Linked DNA regions of Homo sapiens. The protein of the gene in region 1 interacts with the protein of each later gene in a biochemical or structural test. Each region holds a gene or a part of one and is shown in the gene's direction. Other genes may lie near its edges. The genes, in order: TOLLIP, TOM1L1, PEG10 and TLR4.

Region 1 (7,848 bases):
CGGTGAGGACGGGGCGGCCGTGCCCTCAGAGGTGGGTCGGTGAGGACGGGGCGGCCGTGCCCTCAGAGGTGGGTCGGTGAGGACGGGGCGGCCGTGCCCTCAGAGGTGGGTCGGTGAGGACGGGGCGGCCGTGCCCTCAGAGGGGGGTCAGCGAGGACGGGGCGGCCGTGCCCTCAGCGGGGGGTCAGCGAGGACGGGGCGGCCGTGCCCTCAGAGGGGTGCGGTGAGAACAGGGCGGCGGTGCCCTCAGAGAGGGTTCAGTGAGGACAGGGTGGCCGTGCCCTCAGAGGGGCGTCAGTGAGGATGGGGTGGCCGTGCCTTCGGGGGGTGGGTGGTGAGGACAGGGTGGCAGTACTCTCAGAGGGGGGTTGGTGTGGACAGGTTGGCCGTTCCCTCAGAGGGGGTCGGGGGGCAGTGTCTGGACTCTGTTCCACTGGGAAGGAGGAACTGGCGGGCTCCATGTGGGTGGGAGGGCCGGGATGGCTCCCGGGGTCTCTATCACCAGCTCCTGGGGGTGAGCCGGGTTGGCTGCAGGAGAGCGGGTGGCAGTGGTACAGGGAGGCCGTCTGCATTCCAGGCAGGACGCTTTACAGGCAGCCGGAGCTGCAGGGCTGAACCCAACCCAGCTTACGAGGGCTTTTCTCCTGGTTTTTTCTTGTAAAGGTTTTACAGTTTTAGGTTTTATATTTGAACCTGCCATCCATGTTGAGTTTGTTTGCTGAACAATCATCTTACTTGCCACGGTCTTCTGTCTTATTCTGAACACACGTTCACTCCCACCCCGAGGACCTCAAATGTCCCTGCCCAGCTGAGCACCTGGCCTGAAGTCGAATCTCATGGTCTACATGTGATGTGGCTCCTTGTGATTGGGAGACACAAGAAAGACAAGTTCCAGTCCCCAAAACCCCACGTACTCCGATAGCACAGGCAGGGCTGCTGCCTTCACGAGGGAGGAAAGCAGCCACGTGGCGTCTGAATTATGTGCAGCAGGTGTCCTCACTCTCACCTAGAGCGAGGATGCACCTCTCCCGGGTCATCATGCTCCGGGGGCAGGTTCACACTCCATGTCATGCTCTGGCTCTCAGCTCTGTCCCGGGACCTCCTCCTCTTTCCCTCCTCAGCCACTTCTGAGGAGGGCATTAGAGAGTGCGCCCTTCATGGTGGGTGAGTGGCGGCCTCAGCTGTGTCTGTGAGCGTCGTAGGTTTCTGCTGTCAAGGACGAGCCACGTGCTTTGTCTCAGAACTGCACGATCCATCTGTGGCTCACTCTTCTTGCTCCTGGCCTCCTGGGAAGCAGGTCACAGCCGTGTTCAGGCGACTCTGAGTGGCTGTAGTCTATGTGTTAGGAAAAGGCCTCGTGGAAGGGTTCAGGGAGGCAGACGGCCTAGAGAACCCACCCTCTCCTGATGGTTGGCACCTCCTTTTCCTGACATTGGCTTCATTCCAGGCAAAGTTGGCCAAGAATTACGGCATGACCCGCATGGACCCCTACTGCCGACTGCGCCTGGGCTACGCGGTGTACGAGACGCCCACGGCACACAATGGCGCCAAGAATCCCCGCTGGAATAAGGTCATCCACTGCACGGTGCCCCCAGGCGTGGACTCTTTCTATCTCGAGATCTTCGATGAGGTGAGAGGGACGTGCCAGCTATTATGGAGGCTGCACGTGGCTGAGCGTGGCTGCCGTGGGGACACACCTGCCAACACAGCCACGTTCCTGGCTGGCTTCGAGGCGTGGCTCCCCACCTGGTGTTTCATTGGGTGCATGACAGGGTCCTGCTCTCCCCAAGGAATGTGAAAAAGGGATTGTTTCCAGCTCCTTGAACATACTTACATTTGGAAACATCCCCAGTGACAAGCATGACCCAGGGATACAGCGTGCACGTGTCCCCTCCGCTGGGCGCACAGGGTCTGGCCGCTCACCAGCAGGTGGGATTTCCAGGGACAGAGCGTGCACGTGTCCCCTCCGCTGGGCACTGATCTGGCCGCTCACCAGCAGGTGGGATTTCCAGGGACAGAGCATGCATGTGTCCCCCGCCACTGGGCACTCGTCTGGCCGCTCACCAGCAGGTGGGATTTCCAGGGACAGAGCATGCATGTGTCCGCCCCGCTGGGCGCACAGGGTCTTGCCGCACACCAGCAGGTGGGATTTCCAGGGACAGAGTGTGCACGTGTCCACTGGGCACTCGTCTGGCCGCTCACCAGCAGGTGGGATTTCCAGGGACAGAGCGTGCATGTGTCCGCCCCGCTGGGCGCACAGGGTCCGGCCGCTCACCAGCAGGTGGGATTTCCAGAGAGTGCGGCTGCCTACTGGGTGGGAAAGCTGTTCTTGGTGGTGCGAATGGTCGTGACCCTTGAGGGTCCTGAGTCCCGTCCGTGGCTGCACCTGCAGCGCTTCTGAGGCAGAGTCAGAAGGTCAGAGGGGATGTGGCGAGGCTGCTGCTCAGTGTGGTCCTGGCACCTCGCACCTGTGGCATTGTGAGGCTAGAGACTGGGTGGGGGCCGGGGAGCAGTGTGGGGCAGCCAGGCCAGCAGACGGCCAGCCCTCCCTGCCTGGGCCCTGCCTTTTCCTCCCGGCTTTTCTCTCCCCGTCCCTACCTGCTTTCCCCTCCCTGGCCCTCAGAAGAGTAGAGAGCGCATGGGAAGTGCAGAGTCAGCTGTGGGAGGCAGACCCCGTGTCCTTTCCAGTCTGCACCCCGGCTGCTCTGGGGCTTGACAGGTGGCAGCCGGTGGAGCAAGGATGGGGCCCCGAGGGCTGGGGAGGAGCAGCCAGTGTCCCTGAAGTGGAACTGAAGGAGGACAGCAGCCCAGGGCCCTCGCTTTCCCCAGCCCCAGACCTGGCCCTGGCCCTGGCCCTGGCCCATCCTGGTGGAGAGAGGGAAGAAGTCCCCTACGGAGGCTGATATACGATCGTGAAGCCTGCGCTGCCCGAGGGGTCTCATCGATGGGGTGTTGGTGCAGGTGGGAGCCCTGTTCCACAGATAAGACGGGGACTCGAGGCGGGCCCACGATGGTGCGGCTGCAGGGGCAGGGTGGCCCCTTCCCTGATGCCTGGGGCCTCTCCCTCTTGTCTCCCGCAGAGAGCCTTCTCCATGGACGACCGCATTGCCTGGACCCACATCACCATCCCGGAGTCCCTGAGGCAGGGCAAGGTGGAGGACAAGTGGTACAGCCTGAGCGGGAGGCAGGGGGACGACAAGGAGGGCATGATCAACCTCGTCATGTCCTACGCGGTGAGCTGCACGCCTGGGCGGGGTGGGGCGCATTGGGGTATGTTGGAGCACGTCGGGGCTATGCCGCCCCACAGACACCCTTGTCTCTTTCCTGGAGGCACTGAGCCCATAAAACAGCAGGGCTCACGTTCTGAGGACAGAGGGCAGGGGCCCTGGGTGGTTTGGTGGCAGAGAGGGGCTGCCCTGCCCACTGCTCCTGCCCATGTTCTCTGTCTGGGGAAACAGCATAGGGGTTGTTTGTGTTCCTAAGATGAGCCAACCCTTTGTGGTGGTCTCCACTGCAGGCCCCTGTGTCCTCGGAGGACCCCCACAGCCCTTCCAAGCTCTGCCCTTAGGGTCCAGCTGAGCAGCCCTCCAGGGTCTGAGATACAGCCCTGGGCCCTGCAGGACACCAGGCTCCTCCCCACAGGGCAGGCATTGGCCGTGGTGTGGCAGGGCATCTCTGGAGATGTCGGGGAAGCCTGGGGGCTGCTGTGCTCAGGGTCAGGAAGTCGAGGCCTGGCTGTGGGGCCAGCACGTCAGCGCCCTGGCTCCCAGCCATCTCCATTCTCAGGGCACCTGCAGCTCCTGGGGGCATCAGGAGGGCCAGTTAGAGGCTCCAAGACGCAGAGCTCCTGCCGTCTCGTCTGTATCATCAACCAGAGGATTTTCAGGCTGTTACTGAAAAATGGTGCTGTGGGAAATGCCAGGCAGATGTGACAGCAGAGAGGGTGCAGCAGAGAGGGTGCAGCAGGGAGGGTGCAGCAGGGAGGCTGCAGCAGAGAGGGTGCGGCAGGGAGGCTGCGGCGGGGAGGGTGCGGCGGGGAGGCTGCGGCGGGGAGGCTGCGGCAGGGAGGGTGCGGCGGGGAGGCTGCGGCGGGGAGGGTGCGGCGGGGAGGCTGCGGCGGGGAGGCTGCGGCAGAGAGGGTGCAGCGGGGAGGCTGCGGCGGGGAGGCTGCGGCGGGGAGGGTGCGGCGGGGAGGCTGCGGCGGGGAGGGTGCGGCGGGGAGGCTGCGGCGGGGAGGCTGCGGCGGGGAGGGTGCGGCGGGGAGGCTGCGGCGGGGAGGGTGCGGCGGGGAGGCTGCGGCGGGGAGGCTGCGGCGGTGAGGCTGCGGCGGGGAGGCTGCGGCGGGGAGGCTGCGGCGGGGAGGGTGCGGCGGGGAGGGTGCGGCGGGGAGGCTGCGGCGGGGAGGGTGCGGCGGGGAGGCTGCGGCGGGGAGGGTGCGGCGGGGAGGCTGCGGCGGGGAGGCAGCAGCAGGGAGCTGCTTTTCTGGGCCATCTTGGCTCCTCCCACCCCCTTTTTGTTAAAGCTGGGATATTTTAAATCATGTCCCGGCCGTGAGTGACGATGTGTAAATGTCTCATGACACGTCTTTAACAGACGCTTTCATACAAACACAGAACCATCATGACGCTCCAGTGATTTTACCTGCAGTTGACAGTTTCGAACTCAGAGACGACAGTGGTGCAGTGACTTATCCGCAGTTGACAGTTTCGAACTCAGAAGACAGCGGTGCAGTGACTTATCCACAGCTGACAGTTTTGAACTCAGAGACGGCAGCGGTGCAGTGACTTATCCGCAGCTGACAGTTTTGAACTCAGAGGCGACAGTGGTGCAGTGACTTATCCGCAGCTGACAGTTTCGAACTCAGAGACAACCGCGGTGCAGTGACTTATCCACAGTTGACAGTTTTGAACTCAGAGACAACAGCAGTGCAGTGACTTATCCGCAGTGGACAGTTTTGAACTCAGGAGACAGCAGTGCAGTGACTTATCTGCAGTGGACAGTTTTGAACTAAACTCAGAGACGACAGCAGTGCAGTGACTTATCCACGGTTGACAGTTTTGAACTCAGAGACAACAGCAGTGCAATGACTTATCCGCAGTGGACAGTTTTGAACTCAGGAGACAGCAGTGCAGTGACTTATCCACAGTGGACAGTTTTGAACTAAACTTAGAGATGACAGCGGTGCAGTGACTTATCCACAGTTGACAGTTTTGAACTCAGGAGACAGCAGTGCAGTGACTTATCCGCAGTGGACAGTTTTGAACTAAACTCAGAGACGACAGCGGTGCAGTGACTTATCCGCAGTTGACAGTTTTGAACTCAGAGGTGACAGTGGTGCAGTGACTTATCCACAGTGGACAGTTTTGAACTCAGAGTTGACAGCAGTGCAGTGACTTATGTGAAGTTGACACTTTCAAACTCAGACACCACAGCAGTGCAGTGTGGTTCCCCCCAGGCCGACTCGACACCTACACTGGGATGTCCCTCCTGTCACCATCCTCTCTCAGTCACATCCCAGTTAGAAGGGGGTCTGTAAGCCCGAGCCATGTCACCTCCTGGATTTGAGGAGGTGGTGCAGGGGTGGGAGCAGGGCCCAGCGTCCCCTGTGCACTCAGGGCTCGTGTAGCGAGGGTGATTCTGGGCTGGCATGGGGAGGGCGATTCTGGGCTGGCGTGGGGAGGGCAATTGTGGGGAGGGCGATTCCCGAGGTTCTGATGGGTGGATGTTCCTCCTTGACCCCGGGACCATCTCCGCTGTGTTTCAGCTGCTTCCAGCTGCCATGGTGATGCCACCCCAGCCCGTGGTCCTGATGCCAACAGTGTACCAGCAGGGCGTTGGCTATGTGCCCATCACAGGTGCGTGTGCTCCCTCCCTGGGTGCCTCTCCCCTGGTAGAAACCCCAGGGCCTAGGGCAGGTGCGGGAGGAGGGAACGGGGCTTAGAGCGCCGGGGTGGGGACGTCATCCATTCTAGAATCCTGTAGACGTGCTGACCGCACACAGATCCTTTCAGGCCAGGAAGCCAAGGCTTACGTTTGAATTTTGTTTGCATATCTAGAAAATAGAATTGTTTTTTTTTTTTTTTTCTAATTGTTGGCAGAAATGAGGTGAGTTGAAATTTTCAGAGATGTGGAAATGTGGCTTTGAAACCCCGTTGTGCCCAGCTCTGTGCAGGAGAACCTCACGCCCCTGTCAGGTGACACGTGCTCTGCACTGTGCCGTCGTGTCCGAACCTCACGCCCATTGGGTGACGCGTGCCCTGCGCTGCGCCGTTGTGTCTGAACCTCACGCTCCTGTTGGGTGATGCGTGCTCTCTACTGCGCTGTTGCGTCTGTTGTCGTGTGTCACTGTTAGGAGTGAGCAGCCTGTGGCTGCAGCAACACCAAGCTGGGATGTCGCTTTTCATGCTGTTGCATTTTCGGTCCAGCTGTGACTGTGGTAGCTGCTGGTGCAAGACCGGCCCCCACCATGGATGGGCCCAGCCGTCTTTAGCAGGCGGGGAGACCGCAGCCCCTGAGAGGAGGTGCTAGGGGGGAGCCTGTGGTCACCCTGGTTCTCCTGCTGAGGTGGCCTCTCTCGTTCTGGGGAGCTGGTGTCCAGGCAGAGCACTGGTCCCTCTGCACGGAGGGTGGAGGCCAGAGGCCCAGGCCATGGAAGTGGCCAAGTTGCGGGCAGGGCGCTAGGGATGCGTGGTGGTGTTGGGGGAGGTGGTGTTAGGGGAGGGTCTCGGGGCTGCATGAGGCCCCGGCTGCTTGTGCTCAGGGGCTGCTTTGGGGTTGGGGCGGGACAGAGCTGCTGGCAGGCGAGAGTGCTGTGAGGCCAGTGCTGGTGTCCAGCCCAGCTGGAGTGGAGAGGCCTGGTCAGCACCCCAGTCCTGCCAGCATCCTGCACAGATGCAGAAAGGCCACCTTGGGAGTCGGGACCTCGCCCTAGACCCACCTGATGTGGCCTGAAACCCAGCCCTGACGATGGGAAGGAGGAGACGGCACTGGGAGACTCTGGGCTGTCCACTGGTGTTCAGGACATTCTCGGACAAAACTGCCTGTGAGAACAGCATGGCCTCGCCCTCACTTGCTCACATTATAGACTCTGTTTCCATGTGAAGCCGCCCGCGCAGGTGCCAGGGCTGCCTTTCTCCAGAGGAAAGAGCAGAGCGTGTGTCTGAGAGGGCCTCTGTGGTGTCCAGTGTCTTAGAAAACCACCAGCCTGGGGGTGGGTGTGGGGGCTCATGCCTCTAATCCCGGCACCTTGGGAGGCCAAGGCGGGCAGATCGTGAGGTCAGGAGATCAAGACCATCCTGGCCAACACGGTGAAACCCCGTCTCTACTAAAAATACAAACAAATTAGCCGGGCGCGGTGGTGGGCGCCTGTAGTCCCAGCTGCTCGGGAGGCTGAGGCAGGAGAATGGTGTGAACCCAGGAGGTGGAGCTTGCAGTGAGCCGAGATTGCGCCACTGCACTCCAGCCTGGGTGACAGAGCAAGACTCCATCTCAAAAAAAAAAAGAAAACCACCAGCCCAGCAGAGGTAGCACCTGCACCCCGTCACCGAGGAAAGAATGCTTCCTAGGAGGTGACCACAGGTGAGCCAGAAACGCAGAAGCAGCCTTGAGGCGTTCAGAGTTAGAGGAGGGTGGGCATCTGGGTAAGTGGAAGAGCCAGCACCTTGGCAGAGAAACGGGGGCGAGCATGGGAGCCCCACAGCTGTTCCTGAGCCTGGAGCCTGGCCAGGGGAGCTCTGCTGCCCTGGGGGCCCTGATGCGCCCTGGCTGCCCCCCAGAGTGGCTCCTGGAGGTTCTGATTTGTAACTGGGACAGCCCAGAGCCGCCGTCGTGGGGTCAAAGTGCCTTCTG
Region 2 (6,953 bases), on another chromosome or scaffold:
AGTAAAAGCTACTTTGATGGACTGATGAAGACAGAACCCAAATTTCAGTGCATTTGAAAAGCACATGAGAGATTAAGTAGAGACAGTAAGTACAGATAACTTCTTAGAACTTAAATATGAAGCAGTGATGAAAACAGGTTTGGGGCCGGGCACGGTGGCTCACGCCTATAATCCCAGCACTTTGAGAGGCCAAGGCAGGCGGATCGCCTGAAGTCAGGAGTTTGAGACCAGCCTGGCCAACATGGCAAAACCCTGTCTCTACTAAAAATACAAAAATTAGCCAGGCGTGGTAGCGGGTGTCTGTAATTCCAACTATTCGGGAGGATGAATAGGAGAATCGTTTGAACCCAGGAGGTAGAGGCTGCAGTGAGCTGAGATCCCACTATTGCACTCTAGCGTGGGCAACAAGAGTGAAACTCCATCTCAAAAAAAAAAAAAAAAAAGGGGTTGTTGGTAGCTAGAGGATACTAAGGCATTTACTACAAGAAGAGATGGAATTAAAGGCTGTACTTTGTATAAAATGGGAGACATGGGAGATGCTGGAGAATCTGTGAATGTTGAAGAATAGGATCTGGCATAGAAGGAGAGGTTGAAGACTCAGGAAGGGAAGAATAACTGAATGGGTCAAGTGCTTCAGAAGCCAGGAATAGACAGGATCACAGAAATAATGGACAATACAAATGAAGATAAACTTGAAGATTTAGTGATGGGAAAATGAGGAAGTTTCCATATCAAGACATTTAATGTATTAAGAATGCAGTTTCTACCAGAGAGTTTAGAGGTTTGAGGAGAGTGAAGAAGACTGAAATCGTTTTGAGGGAGATGAGACCAAACTTTTTAGGGAAACATTAAAATTGTAGCACCATTCTGGGGCCTTATGAACTTGGTGATCATGGTTTCATAGCGCTGTGATTTTTGAGATTTTTCCTCAGCCATGTTTTGCTATACTGTATATATGAATGTTGTGCTTTCAGGTATATTTTCCAGCTACAGACATATGTAAGACGCATATAAAGAATTGAATGGGCCTGGCATGGTGGCTTATGCCTCTAATCCCAACATTTTGAGAGGCTGAAGTGGAAGGATCACTTGAACCTGGGAGGTCGAAGCTGCAATAAGCCATGATTGCACCACTGCACTCCAGCCTGGGTGACAGTGACCCTGTCTCAAAAAAAAGAAAAAAGAAAAACGAATGAAGGATGTCATTGAAAAAATACAATATAAAAAAAGTACAGAAATGACAGTGATGAGCTATAGATGGCTGAGGAGTCTGGACTGTAATCACATAGTTTAAATAAGCTGGAAGATTAATTTTTTTTTTTTTTTTTTGAGACGAAAGTCTTGCTCTGTAGCCCAGGCTGGAGTGCAGTGGCACGATCTCAGCTCACTGCAATCTCCGCCTCCTAGGCTCCAGTGATCCTCCGACCTCAGCTTCCTGAGTACCTGGGACTACAGGTGTGTACCACCACACATGATAATTTTTATGTTTTTTGTAGAGATGGTATTTTGCCATGTTGTTCATACTGGTCTTGAAATCCTGGACTCAAGCGATCCACCCACCTCAGCCTCCCAGAGTGCTGGGATTATAGGTGTGAGCCACTGCACTTGTCCTAATATTTTTTTAAAAAGTTTGAAACCAGAAGAAACTGAGGAGTTTTTTAAGCAAAACATAAACTGTCCAAATTTGAGTCATATTTCTCATTTCAATCACAAGAAAAAATTAATTGGTTCTATGAAATACATACTTTTAAGAGACATAGGAATTGCAACAATAAGGCCGGGTGTGGTGGCTCACACCTGTAATCCCAGCACTTTGGGAGGCCGAGGCGGGTGGATCACCTGAGGTCAGGAGTTTGAAACCAGCCTGGCCAACAGGGTGAAACCCTGTCTCTACTTAAAATACAAAAAAATTAGCTGGGCATGGTTGTGTGTCCCTGTAATCCCAGCTACTCGTGGGGCTGAGGCAGGAGAATCACTTGAACCTGGGAGGCAGAGGTTGCAGTGAGCCAAGAAAGCACCATTGCACTCCAGCCTGGACAAAAGAGTGAGACTCTGTCTCAAAAAAAAAGAAAAAATGAAGTGCAACATTAGAATTTAAATAAACTAGAATACACACTTCAGGGCAGAGACTTATTTTTACTCATATGTAGCCTGAACTCCAAAACCAGCTCAATTTTTAATTACAGTGCTGGCAGTTAAAAACCAAAATAGCACTTTGAAATTGATACATAACCCTTTTGCTGTGATGGCTTTGTTTCAGAGCTATTTATGAAGAAATTGATGCTCACCAGCACAAAGGAGCTCAAAATGATGGTGACTGAGGTAAAGACTTCAACTTATACAACTTAATTCCATATTCCATATAATTTCAGTATAATTATCACTTTACATATTTAGTATTTAAATTTTCTAAGGGCCATCTGAGTCTGACACTTTGAAATATGAGTTCCCCTGAATCATTCAAATTGTGCTGAACCATTGTTCACTAATGAGAGTCATTCTTTGTGATTTTCTCATCTGTAAATAGTAAGGCTTGGGAATACAGTAGTTTATGGTATAGAAATATTAATGCTAACAAAATAGATGAGCAATAGGAGTAGCACTGAAATCAGGCATTTGTTTTTCATATGCAGTTAATACTTGTTAACCGGTACCAGTAGACCCATTTACCGTTAGTCCTCCAAATAGGTCTGAATTTTTCCTATTTTCAGCACTACTAATCCCATGTATTTACTATTTAATGGTCACCAATGAACTATCAAAACTTATTTATTCCCCTTATACCCTCCCCTATGGAAGAAGCACATTCTTACCTTTCTTCTACTAGACTGTGACTCTCCAGCTTCCCAGTAAAGACAAGAGAGTTATCAAGGAATGGGGAAAGAGAAGGACAGGATGAATACTGGCCATTTTCTTCTCTTTATTTTAGAAGAAAGTGGATGATCAGCTCACTACCACATCAAAGGTGCCAACTCTCTAAAACGTAGACTCTGTGCAGCTTTGAAGCCTGGAAGACAATACCTACCAACATGTCAAAGCCATGGTGGCACATTTCTGCTATAATGAAGATTAAATAGAATAACAGTTCCAGGATAACACTGATTCCTGACAACAGCGTGAGATTTCAACAGAACTTGTTTGGAACAAATACTCACTTAAAACTTCAGCAGAAGAAAAATTACTTAGTCCTTAGGCCAACCAATTTAACTGCAGTGTCATGTTTCACAGGCCTTCCTACATTTAGAAATCGTCACACAGCTGTGATAAGAGTAGATTATTTTACTATGAAATAATTCTGAATAGATGAAAGCATAAAATGTGAGAAACTGAATGTATTATTCAGGAAGAATACTGAGTGCCTTCATTTAACTAAAGTTGAATGTAAAAGTCAATTTGCACTTCTTTATAATCCTCTGGTTTAGAATTATAAATTGTTAAAACCTTGATAATTGTCATTTAATTATATTTCAGGTGTCCTGAACAGGTCACTAGACTCTACATTGGGCAGCCTTTAAATATGATTCTTTGTAATGCTAAATAGCCTTTTTTTCTCTTTTTACTGCAACTTAATATTTCTATTTAGAACACAGAAAATGAAAATATTTAGAATAAGTTGTACATTTGATGACAAATAAATCACTATTAAAACAATTTAATACTTTTTTTTTTTAACAAAGGTTTGTTTCCAGAAGAACTTTTGATGTCAGTAAATCTTCACAATCCCACCTGTACATTTTAACATTCATGGACTTGTAATGGTGATGCTTTGGCTAACAGCCTAGTAGATGTATTTTATTTCAATTTTATGATACTACAGTTTCAAAGTAATTATTCAGAACTCTGAATATAAAATAGCCCTAAACCTTAAAGGACAAATCAAATTTGAAATAAGAATTTAAATCTTTGGACAAGCTGTTAGGGCTTAGTGACTCCTCTTCTACTTTGAGCTTTTAAAATACTGACTATTCATAATGAAGGAAAATAGCAACCAACTCTTTTAGACACAATAAACATGGTTAGAAGTTCTGGCCTATGACTTGAAACAAATAACCCTGAGCATACATTTTTGAAAAACATTGTCAGATTCATTGCTGTAAGTATGAAGAGTTAATAATCTGGAAGGGAATTATGGAATTAAGCTGAACCCATGCCTGCATATTTAAAAAACAAAGCGGCTTATTTTAATAGTATCAAACTCTTCAGTATGGTATTGAATAGTCAGTCATATATTCTAGCTAGGCATATGAGTTTCTTATGATAAAAGCTGAACTTGTTCTCTCAAGTTTAAGTGAAAAAAATTAGTTGAGAAAAAATAATTATTTAAAATATAAGCCTTCATATTATTGTACAATATTTCTCCTTTGAGAAGATAGGATATATGATTTTCCCAAAAATCACAACTTTGAAGGAAGACTTAGTTGCTGACTTCAATTATATCCTGGAACTGGCAACTTGTGCCCTTCCTTTGCTTCAAAAAAAGTGTAAGAAAGAGTGATAAGATCAACTTTAATCATTCTTGGATCTTCAGCAAATTCAGGATCAATGTAGAAAAACACTGGCATATCTACTTCCTCTTGGGGATTAAGCCTTTGTTCTTCAAAACAGAAGCACTGGAAATTATAGAAAGATTTTAATAACATTTCTATTCTCGTATTACATAACAGAAACTATACAGTTCTTTTATCTTAGCATTCCAGTACACTTCGTGATTTTAATAAGCATACTATTAAATACACAGTTCTGTGATAAATTAAGAGCATCTTTTCATCTCAATGAGTTCTGCTTTAAGGATGAAGAACAAATTCTAATCTTAAAAGCAGATATCCATTTGGTTTGGTTCTCAATCTCTGCATAGCAGGTATAGATAGTGAAGAAAAATAGCTTGATGTTTAGAAGAAATTCGTTTTCAGAAATCACAAGATCTACTAAAACACTAAGTTTCATACTAAACCGTTTCATGTATCTTTATCATATTCTGTAAAGTTTACACTTTGATGTACCTGTATTTTATTGAAATACTGTCCAGCTTCAAATGGAACAATATTGTATGTAGAAATTCCAATTACTGGTTTGTCAGTAGGATTCTTAGCTCTGTAAAACGCCAGTGCAGTCTCTCCTGGCACCACCTGTTTTAAAGAATATATATATTATCAATACTTTGAATCTCACAAAGTTCCTCTTTTCCCTGCTAAATTAGTCTCATTATTTTGCCTATTCATCAGACCATAATACCTAATCTAATGTAGGGTTCAGCAAAATAAATTGTGAATATTACCCATAAACATATCTGAGTTTAAAAACTTACTTGCATATGTCAATGAAGAACCAATGTTCTAATATCCATAATTAGTTATGAACTGTCCTCTTGTATATTTGAGGTCTTCAAGGAATAATCGGCAAATTACATTATTTAAAATGTGTCCAAGCCAATCATATCACAGCCCTAGCCCAACTTTTCTGTAACACTTATACCTGAATGTCATGATTGACTATTTTTTTTAAAAAGATACCAACATTAAACTTACCTTAAAATCAGAATAAAACTGACTGACTAGAACCTTTATTATGCCACAAAGTGTTAATACTTTGGAGAAAATAAGGGAATAGCGAGGCTTAAAAAAATTTTCCAAAGGATATTCTGTCACTTGTACCAATTCAGCCACTAATACCTTTGTATACTACCACGTAATTGGAGAAGATTCATAATCATAACCTATAAAATCTTTATTAAGAGATTCAGTCATGTTTACTAAACTGGGCAAGCACTAATATTTATAAGGCTTTTCCAATATGGGTTGAAATTAACTCACTCTGGCTAATCCTCAATTAATGAGATTTCAGTTAAAATCTTTCTTACAGTTGGTTAAAATTTTAGGAAAGCGTTTAGGTATAGTCTCAGTCTCACTGGAGTATAACATAACTATTTACTACTTATTGATTATTTCAAAGGCCCTCAATTTGTTTTCTTTTAGAAGGACAGGGATACTTTTGATATAAACCAGTAAACTACTCATTGTAACCAATGCTTTTCCACATTTTTCCCATGTCTTCTATGCCTGAGGAAAAGTCAGGAAGCTATATAGCCTGACGGTTACTGCTACTCCCAACTGTTTCACTCATCTAAACTTAATTTCAAAATACTGACGGGTTCCATTACTATAAATTTTTTTATTCCCATAGACTACTTTTTAATAGTGCTTTACACCTAATGTAACAGAATTTATACTTTAACTTTTAAGTTACATGATAGTAAAAGTCAATTTGGAACAATGGAAAATGCCATGTTTTATTAGAATCATAGTGTTAAAATTAGTCCTCTGACAGTTTAAGTGATGAAAGAAAGGAATTTACATTAATAAAGTAATCTTTTAATGACTGGTTAGTCACTTACATATATTTCTGTTTGCTGAGGTCTAAAGTTCCACTGGAGACTTGCATGCACATCTGCATTAAAGCTAATTTTAATGATTCGATCTTTAACAGGCACCATGTTTTCAATCTTGTCTGAGGCATGACCTGCAACTGCTGATCCTCCAAGTCCAGTAGTCTAGAAAAAGATACCAAATATGTTAAACAATACTTTTAGGTGTTGATGATCTATTTATTTGATAAAAGTTTAAAAACAATGTAGTATTTATAATCCATTTGGAGCCAAGTTTACATATGGTAACTGACCATTGCTGTAACTGTGTCAAGAATCTGACTACTTTTGGGATGTCATGAGCCTGTATTTGTTAAAGTCATTCCTATTTTTCAGCAATCCCTTGGTTACCTGGCATGGTCAAAAATGAGTCTGGGAAAAGCAGGTTCACTAGATAAGTCAACTATTATCACTGATAGTCGAACTCACAATTTCCAGCTTAGCCATTTATAAAAAACACATTTCCCTTTATTGCTAGTATTTCATTAATAGAAATAAAATTTACCCATGACCTTGTAATTCCACTGAAAAT
Region 3 (7,848 bases), on another chromosome or scaffold:
GAGCTGCGGACAGTGATGAGCTGCAGACGGTCAGGAGCTATAGATCGATTTGCAATTTGCTCTTCAAATGCGCTACCAAGTGCCATGCTTTACAAACAGATAAGCGCTTCAAATGCGCTACAAACTGGCGCTTCAGATGCGCTACAAGCACGCTTCACGCGGGCGACAAACTGATGGGAGCTACAACTGGCGCTTCATTGCGCTATAAACTGATGGGCGCTTTATGTGCCACAAACTGACGGATGGGCGCTTCAGTGGCGCTACAATCCAGAACGAGGAGCAGCGATATAGGAGCTGCAGACAGAAAACTGAATTGCGCTTTACATGCGCTGCAAAATCTGAGCTGCAGAAGAGTAGCACTACAAAAAACGCTACAAAAACGATGCGATTAGCCAGCCCGACAACAGCGCTTCATTGCGCTGCGAGGCACATGAACTGCAGAGGTACATGAGCTGCGGAACAATTCACACCTAAGATGCACTACAAAGTGGTAAGAGCTGCAGAGGTACAGGAGCTGCAGACCGTTTGCGCTACAAATAAAGCAGCCGTAGTGGGACATGAGCTGCGGAGTACAATTCCTCTGTTTTCTTGGAGCAGGACCCCACCCTTTCACCTTTTGGAATGGCTCCCACTCTATTTTTCTGCAGGACGGTTCTCGCATGATGGTGCTGGTAGACAAAATGGAGCCCCGGGCAAAAATTAGTGTTTAACATTCTGCCCACACCATTCCCGCTATAGCAGTGGAGTGGAGGGGCACTGATTGGAGTGGAAATGGGAATCTTTTGGTGATGGCAGAGCAGGCTGCCTGCCTACTTGTGCTTGATTGAAGTGGCGGTGTAGTTGTGGTGGCGCGAATCAGCGTCCAGCAACAGTTTGTGGAAACTGTGGGTTTGCTGAGTATGGCGGGGGAATTGGATCTGTGGATTGCTCTTGCTGCATGAAATGAATCTGGCTTTGGTGACTGGTGGGAGGGGTTTGGGAGGGGGGATTCTGGCGGCGGGGGGGGGGGGTGTGCAGATACTCTGCAGCCCTGTAGCAGCCAGTCTCAGGCCTGCCCCGCCCATCCTAGTGTGCCTTCTCTGCGGTGCTTAGCGCCTCCTCCTACAGCGCCTCCTCAGAGCGCGCCTCCCCTGCAGCGCGCCTTCCCAGAGCGCGCCTTCTAGATGCGGCCTCCTCAGGCCCCTCCTCCCAGCTCCTTAGCGCCTGCCTGCCCAGGCCCCACCTCTCTCTGGCCACCTCATTCTGAGGTGAGCTGCTCAGGCCCCGCCTCTTCCAGGCCCGCCTTTTCTGTGGTGAGCTGCCCAGGCCCTGCCTCTCCCGGGCCCACCTACTCTGAGGTGAACTGTCCAGGCCCCGCCTCTCCCGGGGCCGCCCCCTCTGAGGTGAACTGCCCAGGCCCCACCTCTCCTGGGCCCGCCTCCTCTGAGGTGAACTGCCCAGGCCCCGCCTCTCCTGGGCCCGCCTCCTCTGAGGTGAACTGCCCAGACCCCACCTCTCCTGGGCCCGCCTCCTCTGAGGTGAACTGCCCAGGCCCCGCCTCTCCTGGGCCCGCCTCCTCTGAGGTGAACTGCCCAGGCCCCGCCTCTCCTGGGCCCGCCTCCTCTGATGTGAGCTCACCCAGATCCCACCTCCCCAGGCCCGCCTCCTCTTAGGTAGCCTGCTCAGGCCCCGCCTCTCCAAGGCTTGGCCCCTCCCTAAGCCTGCCTCTGCCGGGCTGGCCTATAGTCCCACCTCCCTCAGAGCCGGCTAGCACACATGCGCAGTGTGAACCCTCAGCCCCTCCCTTCAGGCGCCGGTCCTCTGCACCTGCGCACCTTCCTTGCCTGAGCCCTGGCTGTACAGCCCCGCCCCCCTGCGGTTTCTCTGCTGTGTTGGTTTTGCTTTTTGGCTACTAGAGTCTAATAGAATAATAAATAAAACAATTAACAATAATAATTATAACTGGAATTTATGAGCACTTTTAATATGTTCTTTGCATATATTCAATAACATAATCCCACAATTTAAACTCCTGATAGTGGCTTATGAAGGGACCTTGTAAACTGACATGGCTGGTGCCTCTAAAGGCAATTTAGCCAAATGTTTTTACTGCAAATGAAAACCAAAACTTAACAATTTATTTTTAAAAACTTTAAAAATATTTTCACATTTAAGGTTTTTTTAGAGGCACTAGTGGACCTTTGGGAATCGGATGTTTTGGTGGATACAAAATTGGTGCTGTTGGTTTGGCCTCTGAGTGAGGATAAGGCTTTTATTTGCGTGCCTATGAAGCTGGGTGTTTTCCTTGAATCTCTAGGTGATTAACCCTAGCCTATTTGCCTATGTATAATAAATTGTGCCTGCACATGGTAGGCATTCATTAAATATGTGTTAAATGACCAGAGTAAATTGGTTTATTCAGTGTCTTGCTTGGTGTCTGTAGGTCTCTTCTGATTTGCTCCTTTCCTATGGTGCTTTGCTGTCCTGGGTTGCCTTGTTTGCGTTATCTCTCACATTTAACAGAATAAAAAAAAAGTGTATGTGTTTTTAAACTCCAATGATATAAGCTGTAATTATAATACAAAGCAACTAAATTAATTTTAATTATTCCAAATAATTAGCTTTTTTCATAAAAAGCTAGTTATTCCAAATATTAGCTTTTTTCATGAAAAGCTAGTTATTCCAAATAATTAGCTTTTTTCATAAAAAGCTAGTTATTCCAAATAATTAGCTTTTTTCATAAAAAGCTAGTTATTCCAAATAATTAGCTTTTTTCATAAAAAGCTAGTTATTCCAAATAATTAGCTTTTTTCATAAAAAGCTAGTTATTCCAAATAATTAGCTTTTTTCATAAAAAGCTAGTTATTCCAAATAATTAGCTTTTTTCATAAAAAGCTAATTTAAATTTGGGGCAAGTGTATTATTAATGGTACATATTGTATTAAAGTTTGTGTAATGTAATATAAAGTGGCCACATTACAAAATATAGGTTGTTTCAGCTTGCAAAATTAAACAACTGTATAAAACAAATTTATAACTGATTGCTAGTAAGAGGTACCATGTAAGAATTGTGTTTCCAGCTGAATGAAGAAATTTTAAAACCTGGTTCCATATATTACAAATCATGAGCCAGGACTTTGGTAGGGGAGGAATTGGGGGCTTTGGCTCCCAAAAATCTCTGTCACATACCCCCTCCCCACCACAAGTACACAATCTATGGAAAATTTGTGCTTATCATAATTACAGCTTTAAGTAATTTTCCCTTCTCTTTGGATATTGTATATTTGCATATTGAAGAGGTTCAAAACAACAGTAATAACATGCATATTAAGAGAATTTGCATTTCATAAATAGTACAAGATAGTACTAAAAAATTGGACATTTGAAAATATGAAGCAACTAAGAGTTGCTTAATGAGATGTCATTTCCTAACAGGATGTTCATTTATGGTTTTTGGCTACTATTGCTCTTTGGTGTGTTTGTGGAATAGAAATTATTCCAAGCTATTGTGAAGAGTCAATAATTAACCAAATGTATTTATTTCCTAAAAAGACTAAAACTGAAATTATTATCATGTAAAGATGGCATCTGTCCTAGGCAACTTGGCTTTATGCAGTTTGTCCTTTCAGTTTTCAGGAATGAGACCTCTTGACCCCTCCCCTCCAATGCAGCCCCTACTAAGGGGGAGTTTAAGGAGCCATACATAGTTCTATAATTCAAATCAAGTAAACATGCTTCTTGTCCCAGGTTAACTTGTGCTGCCTCAGTCGCTGTTTAAACATTTTTATACGCACTGTTAACCTGCCTGCCCATTACCCTATTACTTTTAATGGATAAACTACTGTTCCCTGGGCAGTTGTCTCTTTTAACGTCCCACCCTAAACTTGCCAACCCTCATATGAAGGCCTCAGGCTTGTTATTGGCAAAGGTCAGAAGTCTTAAGCTAGTGACCTTGCAGGCTAAAGTAGGCCTTGAATTTGTTTGACCAGGAACTAAATTAAAAAATAAAAAAGAATGAAATGTCTGGTGGCAGGGGGGCAGGGGTGGGGAGGGTGGTAAGGGGGAGGGCATGCACCCCCAAGTTCCATTGTTGCAGCCCCTCCCATCTTAACTCTGGTCTCTTTTCACTTTTCAACTACCTTCCTTATATACCAAAGGTATTTGAATTTTTAACTCTTATTGATCTTTTATTTCCCTAAACCATGTAGTAATTATTTGCTGATTTCCTAATGTATTGTTATTTCTGTCCCATCACTGTTTTTTGCAGATAATAAAACCATCAGACCTGGGCTTCAATAAAGCCCCACTTAGTGGCCGTGATTGACAAGTGGTCAGGCTGCACCAGGCCATGCTGTGAATGCTCTTTAGGAAGTCTTGTCTCAAGGTTTTGAAGATATTAATGTCTAGATGACAAAAGTGGTACCTTAGTCACCTTACTTATGGTTATTAGTTGTTCATTAATGGGACATGAAAACTCCTAATTTAATAAGGAAAAATTGCATTATGTTGTGATGTTATATTGTCAGGGTCAGCAATACAATTGTCTTTAAGGAGTTGGAAATGATACTGAATGTCACGGGTTATGATGTGTTTATTGTGTTTTCTAATTTTTTCTAAACTTGAATATTTTATCTTGAATGTCAATTATTTGTTGTTTTTATAGCCTAAGTTACTAAAGTAATTAAGTAGTGGGGTTAAAACTGTTAAAATGTCACACTACTCCCTGTCTCTTAAAGACCCTGCTTGCTGTATAGCCACTCCTTGGAGAGGCTACACCAACTGCAAAGGACACAGGGATAGTATCTGTGGGTGGTGACATTGGGGCATGGGAGGTACCTAAAGAGTTTAGGAGTTGGAGAGGAAGGAGCATTTCTTTACAGCCAGGGGCTGGGCATCATGTTTAATTACCACTTTTTTTTTTTCTTGTACTCTATTGGTTGAAAATAGTAACTATTTTTCACCTAACTTCTCTAATTACCAACTGTGTATCTTTTTGGCCTTATTCTATGTAATTTATTTGGCGTCCATTTTTGCAGGTAAATCACATAGTGAGTATCCAGAGAGGACCAACTTATGTATTTAAACTTTTGTTTATTTAAAAGTTTTATAAACTTTCTTTAAAAGTTTTAAACTTTTTAAATCAAAGTTTTTTAAACTTTTTTAAACTTTTACATATTATGTTTTAAACTTTTTATATATTTAAATTTTCCAAATATGGGACTTGAGATTATTAATAAAATTTAAAATAATTAAATCATTCTAAATGCATTTAACTGTATTTTCAGGAAGTACACAGGCAGACACTGTGTCAGGATTTTTATGTGTGTGATTGTCATTACACTCATAATTAGAATGCTTAAACACACACCCTACCCCCACCTCCCCACACACATCCACTCACCCCCTAGGAGTGCAGCCCTGTCCCACCTTAACATTACAAACCTTCATTTGGGGCTATGCTGACAAATCTTCATTAAAAACTATGGATTACAAACTGGTAAACTGCAAGACAAATAAGGCCTTGAATTTGTTTGACCAACACAGTATTTTTAAAAAAGTAAATGTCTTTAGGTGGGAAATGCATGCCCATGTTGCTATAGTTGCAGCCCCTCCCTCTTTTAATCCCACTCTTTTTACACAGATAGTCACCTTTCTATTTTCTAATTAATAACTTTGTTCATATCAGCTAACCATTGTTGAATACTCACTACATAATTTACCTGCACTATTTAATTAAGTCCTCATAATTAGTTTGAGGTATACTATTATTGGGCTTCTTTGAATGTCCCATTTTATAGCTTTTCCTAGGAGGCATCAATTATTATTTCTTGAATGACTGCATAATGACAAAGGAAACTGACATACACATATTGCTGCTTAGTGCCATTTCTGTCCCATAGAGAATTTTCTTTGGGGATTTAAATTATGGTCAGAAAAGTAATTTAGGCAGTCCTGTGGTTTTTGTGGTGGTGGTTGTTTGATTTGATAACCAGTTACCTTCTCGGTGGCAGTGGAATAGGGTTGTGACAGTTGGCCAGAGTACCCTCCTGCCCACAGGGCTGATGAATACATGCATTGTGATTTTAATACTCCCTTCTTGCTTTAATGAGATTCTATTAGTTGCAGTATTAACTATTTTTGGCCTGGCTTCTTTAATAACAAAAGTTATTATTTTGGCTTTAATTTGCATAATTGATTTTGTATCCATGTTTGCCTTGAAGTTTCTTGCTGTGTTTGAATACAAAACTACTTGTTTAGAGGGTTTCAACATTCTTTTATAGTTTATAAAGGTAAGCATGCTGTTGATAATGTATTGTTGAATCATAATGAACAGGTGGCCTTTGAGGAAGACAAGGTCATTTGAACATCAAAAAGTACTTTGCTTTTTGTTATATATGGTGCTGATTACTAACTTTCTCTTGAGAGTTTATTTTCTTTGTTCACTAATTATTAATGTAAGCACGTAGAGCAAGGGATAATTTAAATACCAAATCCTTTGTGTCTGCTTTTGCTGCTTTGAATGTATAAGTTGGATTTATACATACATTTATCTTTATTTACAGAAATAAGCGGGTTTTGAAAACAAAAAAAAGAAGGAGTGGAAGAGGGGGCCAGGATCCAGGCCTCCATCCCCACAGAAGTGAAGCTACAGCTGGGAGGTCTCCTCCCACCCCAACCGTCACCCTGGGTCCCGACTGCCCACCTCCTCCTCCTCCCCCTCCCCCCAACAACAACAACAACAACAACTCCAAGCACACCGGCCATAAGAGTGCGTGTGTCCCCAACATGACCGAACGAAGAAGGGACGAGCTCTCTGAAGAGATCAACAACTTAAGAGAGAAGGTCATGAAGCAGTCGGAGGAGAACAACAACCTGCAGAGCCAGGTGCAGAAGCTCACAGAGGAGAACACCACCCTTCGAGAGCAAGTGGAACCCACCCCTGAGGATGAGGATGATGACATCGAGCTCCGCGGTGCTGCAGCAGCTGCTGCCCCACCCCCTCCAATAGAGGAAGAGTGCCCAGAAGACCTCCCAGAGAAGTTCGATGGCAACCCAGACATGCTGGCTCCTTTCATGGCCCAGTGCCAGATCTTCATGGAAAAGAGCACCAGGGATTTCTCAGTTGATCGTGTCCGTGTCTGCTTCGTGACAAGCATGATGACCGGCCGTGCTGCCCGTTGGGCCTCAGCAAAGCTGGAGCGCTCCCACTACCTGATGCACAACTACCCAGCTTTCATGATGGAAATGAAGCATGTCTTTGAAGACCCTCAGAGGCGAGAGGTTGCCAAACGCAAGATCAGACGCCTGCGCCAAGGCATGGGGTCTGTCATCGACTACTCCAATGCTTTCCAGATGATTGCCCAGGACCTGGATTGGAACGAGCCTGCGCTGATTGACCAGTACCACGAGGGCCTCAGCGACCACATTCAGGAGGAGCTCTCCCACCTCGAGGTCGCCAAGTCGCTGTCTGCTCTGATTGGGCAGTGCATTCACATTGAGAGAAGGCTGGCCAGGGCTGCTGCAGCTCGCAAGCCACGCTCGCCACCCCGGGCGCTGGTGTTGCCTCACATTGCAAGCCACCACCAGGTAGATCCAACCGAGCCGGTGGGAGGTGCCCGCATGCGCCTGACGCAGGAAGAAAAAGAAAGACGCAGAAAGCTGAACCTGTGCCTCTACTGTGGAACAGGAGGTCACTACGCTGACAATTGTCCTGCCAAGGCCTCAAAGTCTTCGCCGGCGGGAAACTCCCCGGCCCCGCTGTAGAGGGACCTTCAGCGACCGGGCCAGAAATAATAAGGTCCCCACAAGATGATGCCTCATCTCCACACTTGCAAGTGATGCTCCAGATTCATCTTCCGGGCAGACACA
Region 4 (7,848 bases), on another chromosome or scaffold:
GGTCCACAACGGTTCTCTGGATGTGAACTCTTATAGCACATAATTTTCACTTTTTTCCACAAAACTCGCTCCTATCACCTGTTACAAGCATTTACCTCTGATAACAAGAACTTTCAAATATCTAGCTGTCATGTAAGCACTTTTCATAAACATTAAGAGTATCTGTGACACTTATGTGTAATTTTTCGTATCTCTGAAATTGATATTTACCAGTCATTTATCTTGGCTACCAACTAACAACTATCCATATTATCTGTACCAATCAGATGTATAATCACAATTTTGTGTGACAGAAAATGGCTAAACTTGATCCAAGGCTATTACATGCTTTATCAACTGCACAATCTTTATATATGTCAATTATTGATCTTTAACTGATTTCCTTCTTATGGATTTTCTCCTCTGCTTATCATGTATGCCTAACATGACAAAAAAGAGCCTATCATTGCAGCCAGTATGATAATACTCAGTCTGTGGGGCTTCTTATTTGCTTATTCCATCATCATCTGTCCTGCTTGATGTCTTTGCCTATGCACAATCATATGACCCATCACATCTGTATGAAGAGCTGGATGACTAGGATTAATATTCTATTTTAGGTTCTTATTCAGCAGAAATATTAGATAATCAATGTCTTTTTATTCCTGTAGGTGTGAAATCCAGACAATTGAAGATGGGGCATATCAGAGCCTAAGCCACCTCTCTACCTTAATATTGACAGGAAACCCCATCCAGAGTTTAGCCCTGGGAGCCTTTTCTGGACTATCAAGTTTACAGAAGCTGGTGGCTGTGGAGACAAATCTAGCATCTCTAGAGAACTTCCCCATTGGACATCTCAAAACTTTGAAAGAACTTAATGTGGCTCACAATCTTATCCAATCTTTCAAATTACCTGAGTATTTTTCTAATCTGACCAATCTAGAGCACTTGGACCTTTCCAGCAACAAGATTCAAAGTATTTATTGCACAGACTTGCGGGTTCTACATCAAATGCCCCTACTCAATCTCTCTTTAGACCTGTCCCTGAACCCTATGAACTTTATCCAACCAGGTGCATTTAAAGAAATTAGGCTTCATAAGCTGACTTTAAGAAATAATTTTGATAGTTTAAATGTAATGAAAACTTGTATTCAAGGTCTGGCTGGTTTAGAAGTCCATCGTTTGGTTCTGGGAGAATTTAGAAATGAAGGAAACTTGGAAAAGTTTGACAAATCTGCTCTAGAGGGCCTGTGCAATTTGACCATTGAAGAATTCCGATTAGCATACTTAGACTACTACCTCGATGATATTATTGACTTATTTAATTGTTTGACAAATGTTTCTTCATTTTCCCTGGTGAGTGTGACTATTGAAAGGGTAAAAGACTTTTCTTATAATTTCGGATGGCAACATTTAGAATTAGTTAACTGTAAATTTGGACAGTTTCCCACATTGAAACTCAAATCTCTCAAAAGGCTTACTTTCACTTCCAACAAAGGTGGGAATGCTTTTTCAGAAGTTGATCTACCAAGCCTTGAGTTTCTAGATCTCAGTAGAAATGGCTTGAGTTTCAAAGGTTGCTGTTCTCAAAGTGATTTTGGGACAACCAGCCTAAAGTATTTAGATCTGAGCTTCAATGGTGTTATTACCATGAGTTCAAACTTCTTGGGCTTAGAACAACTAGAACATCTGGATTTCCAGCATTCCAATTTGAAACAAATGAGTGAGTTTTCAGTATTCCTATCACTCAGAAACCTCATTTACCTTGACATTTCTCATACTCACACCAGAGTTGCTTTCAATGGCATCTTCAATGGCTTGTCCAGTCTCGAAGTCTTGAAAATGGCTGGCAATTCTTTCCAGGAAAACTTCCTTCCAGATATCTTCACAGAGCTGAGAAACTTGACCTTCCTGGACCTCTCTCAGTGTCAACTGGAGCAGTTGTCTCCAACAGCATTTAACTCACTCTCCAGTCTTCAGGTACTAAATATGAGCCACAACAACTTCTTTTCATTGGATACGTTTCCTTATAAGTGTCTGAACTCCCTCCAGGTTCTTGATTACAGTCTCAATCACATAATGACTTCCAAAAAACAGGAACTACAGCATTTTCCAAGTAGTCTAGCTTTCTTAAATCTTACTCAGAATGACTTTGCTTGTACTTGTGAACACCAGAGTTTCCTGCAATGGATCAAGGACCAGAGGCAGCTCTTGGTGGAAGTTGAACGAATGGAATGTGCAACACCTTCAGATAAGCAGGGCATGCCTGTGCTGAGTTTGAATATCACCTGTCAGATGAATAAGACCATCATTGGTGTGTCGGTCCTCAGTGTGCTTGTAGTATCTGTTGTAGCAGTTCTGGTCTATAAGTTCTATTTTCACCTGATGCTTCTTGCTGGCTGCATAAAGTATGGTAGAGGTGAAAACATCTATGATGCCTTTGTTATCTACTCAAGCCAGGATGAGGACTGGGTAAGGAATGAGCTAGTAAAGAATTTAGAAGAAGGGGTGCCTCCATTTCAGCTCTGCCTTCACTACAGAGACTTTATTCCCGGTGTGGCCATTGCTGCCAACATCATCCATGAAGGTTTCCATAAAAGCCGAAAGGTGATTGTTGTGGTGTCCCAGCACTTCATCCAGAGCCGCTGGTGTATCTTTGAATATGAGATTGCTCAGACCTGGCAGTTTCTGAGCAGTCGTGCTGGTATCATCTTCATTGTCCTGCAGAAGGTGGAGAAGACCCTGCTCAGGCAGCAGGTGGAGCTGTACCGCCTTCTCAGCAGGAACACTTACCTGGAGTGGGAGGACAGTGTCCTGGGGCGGCACATCTTCTGGAGACGACTCAGAAAAGCCCTGCTGGATGGTAAATCATGGAATCCAGAAGGAACAGTGGGTACAGGATGCAATTGGCAGGAAGCAACATCTATCTGAAGAGGAAAAATAAAAACCTCCTGAGGCATTTCTTGCCCAGCTGGGTCCAACACTTGTTCAGTTAATAAGTATTAAATGCTGCCACATGTCAGGCCTTATGCTAAGGGTGAGTAATTCCATGGTGCACTAGATATGCAGGGCTGCTAATCTCAAGGAGCTTCCAGTGCAGAGGGAATAAATGCTAGACTAAAATACAGAGTCTTCCAGGTGGGCATTTCAACCAACTCAGTCAAGGAACCCATGACAAAGAAAGTCATTTCAACTCTTACCTCATCAAGTTGAATAAAGACAGAGAAAACAGAAAGAGACATTGTTCTTTTCCTGAGTCTTTTGAATGGAAATTGTATTATGTTATAGCCATCATAAAACCATTTTGGTAGTTTTGACTGAACTGGGTGTTCACTTTTTCCTTTTTGATTGAATACAATTTAAATTCTACTTGATGACTGCAGTCGTCAAGGGGCTCCTGATGCAAGATGCCCCTTCCATTTTAAGTCTGTCTCCTTACAGAGGTTAAAGTCTAGTGGCTAATTCCTAAGGAAACCTGATTAACACATGCTCACAACCATCCTGGTCATTCTCGAGCATGTTCTATTTTTTAACTAATCACCCCTGATATATTTTTATTTTTATATATCCAGTTTTCATTTTTTTACGTCTTGCCTATAAGCTAATATCATAAATAAGGTTGTTTAAGACGTGCTTCAAATATCCATATTAACCACTATTTTTCAAGGAAGTATGGAAAAGTACACTCTGTCACTTTGTCACTCGATGTCATTCCAAAGTTATTGCCTACTAAGTAATGACTGTCATGAAAGCAGCATTGAAATAATTTGTTTAAAGGGGGCACTCTTTTAAACGGGAAGAAAATTTCCGCTTCCTGGTCTTATCATGGACAATTTGGGCTAGAGGCAGGAAGGAAGTGGGATGACCTCAGGAGGTCACCTTTTCTTGATTCCAGAAACATATGGGCTGATAAACCCGGGGTGACCTCATGAAATGAGTTGCAGCAGAAGTTTATTTTTTTCAGAACAAGTGATGTTTGATGGACCTCTGAATCTCTTTAGGGAGACACAGATGGCTGGGATCCCTCCCCTGTACCCTTCTCACTGCCAGGAGAACTACGTGTGAAGGTATTCAAGGCAGGGAGTATACATTGCTGTTTCCTGTTGGGCAATGCTCCTTGACCACATTTTGGGAAGAGTGGATGTTATCATTGAGAAAACAATGTGTCTGGAATTAATGGGGTTCTTATAAAGAAGGTTCCCAGAAAAGAATGTTCATCCAGCCTCCTCAGAAACAGAACATTCAAGAAAAGGACAATCAGGATGTCATCAGGGAAATGAAAATAAAAACCACAATGAGATATCACCTTATACCAGGTAGAATGGCTACTATAAAAAAATGAAGTGTCATCAAGGATATAGAGAAATTGGAACCCTTCTTCACTGCTGGAGGGAATGGAAAATGGTGTAGCCGTTATGAAAAACAGTACGGAGGTTTCTCAAAAATTAAAAATAGAACTGCTATATGATCCAGCAATCTCACTTCTGTATATATACCCAAAATAATTGAAATCAGAATTTCAAGAAAATATTTACACTCCCATGTTCATTGTGGCACTCTTCACAATCACTGTTTCCAAAGTTATGGAAACAACCCAAATTTCCATTGAAAAATAAATGGACAAAGAAAATGTGCATATACGTACAATGGGATATTATTCAGCCTAAAAAAAGGGGGAATCCTGTTATTTATGACAACATGAATAAACCCGGAGGCCATTATGCTATGTAAAATGAGCAAGTAACAGAAAGACAAATACTGCCTGATTTCATTTATATGAGGTTCTAAAATAGTCAAACTCATAGAAGCAGAGAATAGAACAGTGGTTCCTAGGGAAAAGGAGGAAGGGAGAAATGAGGAAATAGGGAGTTGTCTAATTGGTATAAAATTATAGTATGCAAGATGAATTAGCTCTAAAGATCAGCTGTATAGCAGAGTTCGTATAATGAACAATACTGTATTATGCACTTAACATTTTGTTAAGAGGGTACCTCTCATGTTAAGTGTTCTTACCATATACATATACACAAGGAAGCTTTTGGAGGTGATGGATATATTTATTACCTTGATTGTGGTGATGGTTTGACAGGTATGTGACTATGTCTAAACTCATCAAATTGTATACATTAAATATATGCAGTTTTATAATATCAATTATGTCTGAATGAAGCTATAAAAAAGAAAAGACAACAAAATTCAGTTGTCAAAACTGGAAATATGACCACAGTCAGAAGTGTTTGTTACTGAGTGTTTCAGAGTGTGTTTGGTTTGAGCAGGTCTAGGGTGATTGAACATCCCTGGGTGTGTTTCCATGTCTCATGTACTAGTGAAAGTAGATGTGTGCATTTGTGCACATATCCCTATGTATCCCTATCAGGGCTGTGTGTATTTGAAAGTGTGTGTGTCCGCATGATCATATCTGTATAGAAGAGAGTGTGATTATATTTCTTGAAGAATACATCCATTTGAAATGGATGTCTATGGCTGTTTGAGATGAGTTCTCTACTCTTGTGCTTGTACAGTAGTCTCCCCTTATCCCTTATGCTTGGTGGATACGTTCTTAGACCCCAAGTGGATCTCTGAGACCGCAGATGGTACCAAACCTCATATATGCAATATTTTTTCCTATACATAAATACCTAAGATAAAGTTCATCTTCTGAATTAGGCACAGTAAGAGATTAACAATAACTAACAATAAAATTGAATAGTTATAATAATATATTGTAATAAAAGTTATGTGAATGTGATCTCTTTCTTTCTCTCTCTCAAAATATCTTACTGTACTGTACTCACCTATTTTCAGACCATAACTGACCATGAAACCTGGGAAAGTGAAACTGTGGATAAGTGAGGAACTAACATACATACATGATTGTTTATCTACAGATGTATGCCTCAGTTTCTTAGTATGCTTGAAAATGTATGATTTTGTGTATATCCGTGCTACATGTAAGTGTGGTTCTATTCATATTTGAATATGAATTCTGCATAAGTGTGTTTATTCAAGCAAATGTACAAGGCTCTGAGAAGGAAGATCAACATACAACTTGGAATATTTCAAGGCCGAAATATTCAAGGCTGACATTGGCCTCCTTCCTATCAGTTCCCTCTCCCAGATGGAAATTCTAGAAATGGCAGGTGAGGTGGACAAGCAGGGAAAGAAATTATATGCATAGAACAGAAGGAGAAGAAAGAGTAAAGTCAGGCCTCAGCCAGCCTCTTTTTAGCTCTTTAAATCCTCTGGATTTAAGAGGGATAAAGGGTGGAATAAGGATAAATTAATGCCAATTGTAATGCCTTAAATTTGTGTGATACCTTACAACTTGAAACATATTCACAAAACTATATATTTGAATATCTCATTAGCTGAGTAAGGTAGCAAATCATAATTAACTTTTTCCATTTTATTGATGGGAAAGCTGAAGTTCAATGAAGTAAATTTTTCAATAGCCCACAGAGTAGGAAAGTGACAAAACCTGAGCCTGGGCCTCCAGGTCACTCAAGGACACTTTCTTTCTTCCACACCCAATTGCTTCATGCTTAAAGTTGGCAAAACAGGAAGTGAAACTCCTGCAGTTTTCTGTGTGGTTGACACTAGCAAGGGTTTCTCAGTTGAAGCCATGAATCATTAAGCCAATACATATGCATATATGTTATACATACCAAATGATTTATTTATAACCCTATCTTTCCATAAAGGACTTGAAGGAGCTTCAAACAAAGGATATGTGAACAATAGGGTTAATCAATAATAAGTAGAAAATCTGGACATAGAATAAAAAGAGGAGAGAAAGACACCGAGAATGAGCGTTAATACAGTGCTTTCCATTTTTCTGGTGTTTTGAGTAGCGTGGCTTTTGGAGAAAGCCAAAACTCAAATTCACTCCTTATCAACTGTGTGCCTTGGGCTCCATTTCTCTGAGAGTCTACTTAGCTCCAATGTAAAATAAGAATAGAACTATGACTTTGTAAGGTTGCTCTAAGGATTGAAAATCATGTATTATGTTCAATACGGGGACACTGTCCTTATGGGTGAGTACTCCCCTAAGACTTTATTAAGAGGGCACTAGGAGAAGCACTGGGAGGTCTTCTCAGTAACAACACTAAAGTAATTGCTATTTTTCCAGCCTGTGGAACCACAGAAGTGACTGTAACTAAAATTAGACATTTCTTTCTGATTCATTCTCTACTCACGGGATTGTCAGACCCCAGTCTTCTTCTGGACTCTATAAACTTTTTAGAAATCATCAGCAGGCTCCTGGAGAAGCTTAAATGAACTCACACAATATGTGACAGTGAACTCCCTGGGAGAGTGAAAACCAAAGTCTAAGCCAGTGTCTCCATTTACTTGTGTGATTGTGGGCAAGTCATTCAAGTGCTTTGAGGCTCAGGTCTTAATTCATGAAATGGAGGTAATAATACCTTGTTGGCAGACCTCACTTGGTTAAAATGATAATGTTGATAGTTACAATAGTTACATTTAATTGATCAATTGTTTTATGCAAGGGCTTTATTTGTGCTATCTCAGTTTGTCACATCAATGAATTAGAAAGATACGAAAGTATTTCCAATTTACAAATGAGGAGTCTGAGTCTGGGAGTCATTCTGTCATGTGTCCACTGTCACCTGCTCATTGGTGGCAGCACTGAGATTAGGATCTAAGTCCACTTCACCGCAGAAGCAGGGCTTCTAAATACTGTTCTATGGCAAGAGCACCCTGCTCTCACAAAATGCATAAAACTTCCTATCTCACCATTATAATTTTGACTGATATTAAACAAAGAGAAGTATTATTATTATTACTTGTTTTTATTTATATTACAGCTGTAAGAGCCAGGAAAAATGTGATCTAAGTTATGTGATCAAA

The links.
Region 2: the proteins of TOLLIP (region 1) and TOM1L1 form a complex in vitro, tested with the Homo sapiens proteins (one study listed by BioGRID).
Region 3: the proteins of TOLLIP (region 1) and PEG10 form a complex in vitro, tested with the Homo sapiens proteins (one study listed by BioGRID).
Region 4: the proteins of TOLLIP (region 1) and TLR4 form a complex in vitro, tested with the Homo sapiens proteins (one study listed by BioGRID).

What each region holds. Positions count from the first base shown.
Region 1 is NC_000011.10:1,284,009-1,291,856, reverse strand, and holds part of TOLLIP (toll-interacting protein), read left to right. Parts: intron 1-1,447; coding exon 1,448-1,630; intron 1,631-2,537; exon of another isoform or gene 2,538-2,961; intron 2,962-3,080; coding exon 3,081-3,233; intron 3,234-5,764; coding exon 5,765-5,855; intron 5,856-7,848. UniProt on the Homo sapiens protein: Component of the signaling pathway of IL-1 and Toll-like receptors. Inhibits cell activation by microbial products. Recruits IRAK1 to the IL-1 receptor complex. Inhibits IRAK1 phosphorylation and kinase activity.
Region 2 is NC_000017.11:54,958,306-54,965,258, forward strand, and holds the end of TOM1L1 (TOM1-like protein 1), read left to right. Parts: exon of another isoform or gene 1-2,260; coding exon 2,261-2,321; 3' UTR 2,322-2,322; exon of another isoform or gene 2,323-2,929; 3' UTR 2,930-2,959; coding exon of another isoform or gene 2,960-3,021; 3' UTR 3,022-3,651; downstream 3,652-6,953. Other genes in the region: COX11 (cytochrome c oxidase assembly protein COX11, mitochondrial), read right to left, coding at 4,428-4,610, 5,001-5,126, 6,392-6,547. UniProt on the Homo sapiens protein: Probable adapter protein involved in signaling pathways. Interacts with the SH2 and SH3 domains of various signaling proteins when it is phosphorylated. May promote FYN activation, possibly by disrupting intramolecular SH3-dependent interactions.
Region 3 is NC_000007.14:94,656,792-94,664,639, forward strand, and holds part of PEG10 (retrotransposon-derived protein PEG10), read left to right. Parts: intron 1-6,542; coding exon 6,543-7,743; coding exon of another isoform or gene 7,744-7,848.
Region 4 is NC_000009.12:117,711,739-117,719,586, forward strand, and holds part of TLR4 (toll-like receptor 4 isoform A precursor), read left to right. Parts: intron 1-650; coding exon 651-2,910; 3' UTR 2,911-7,848.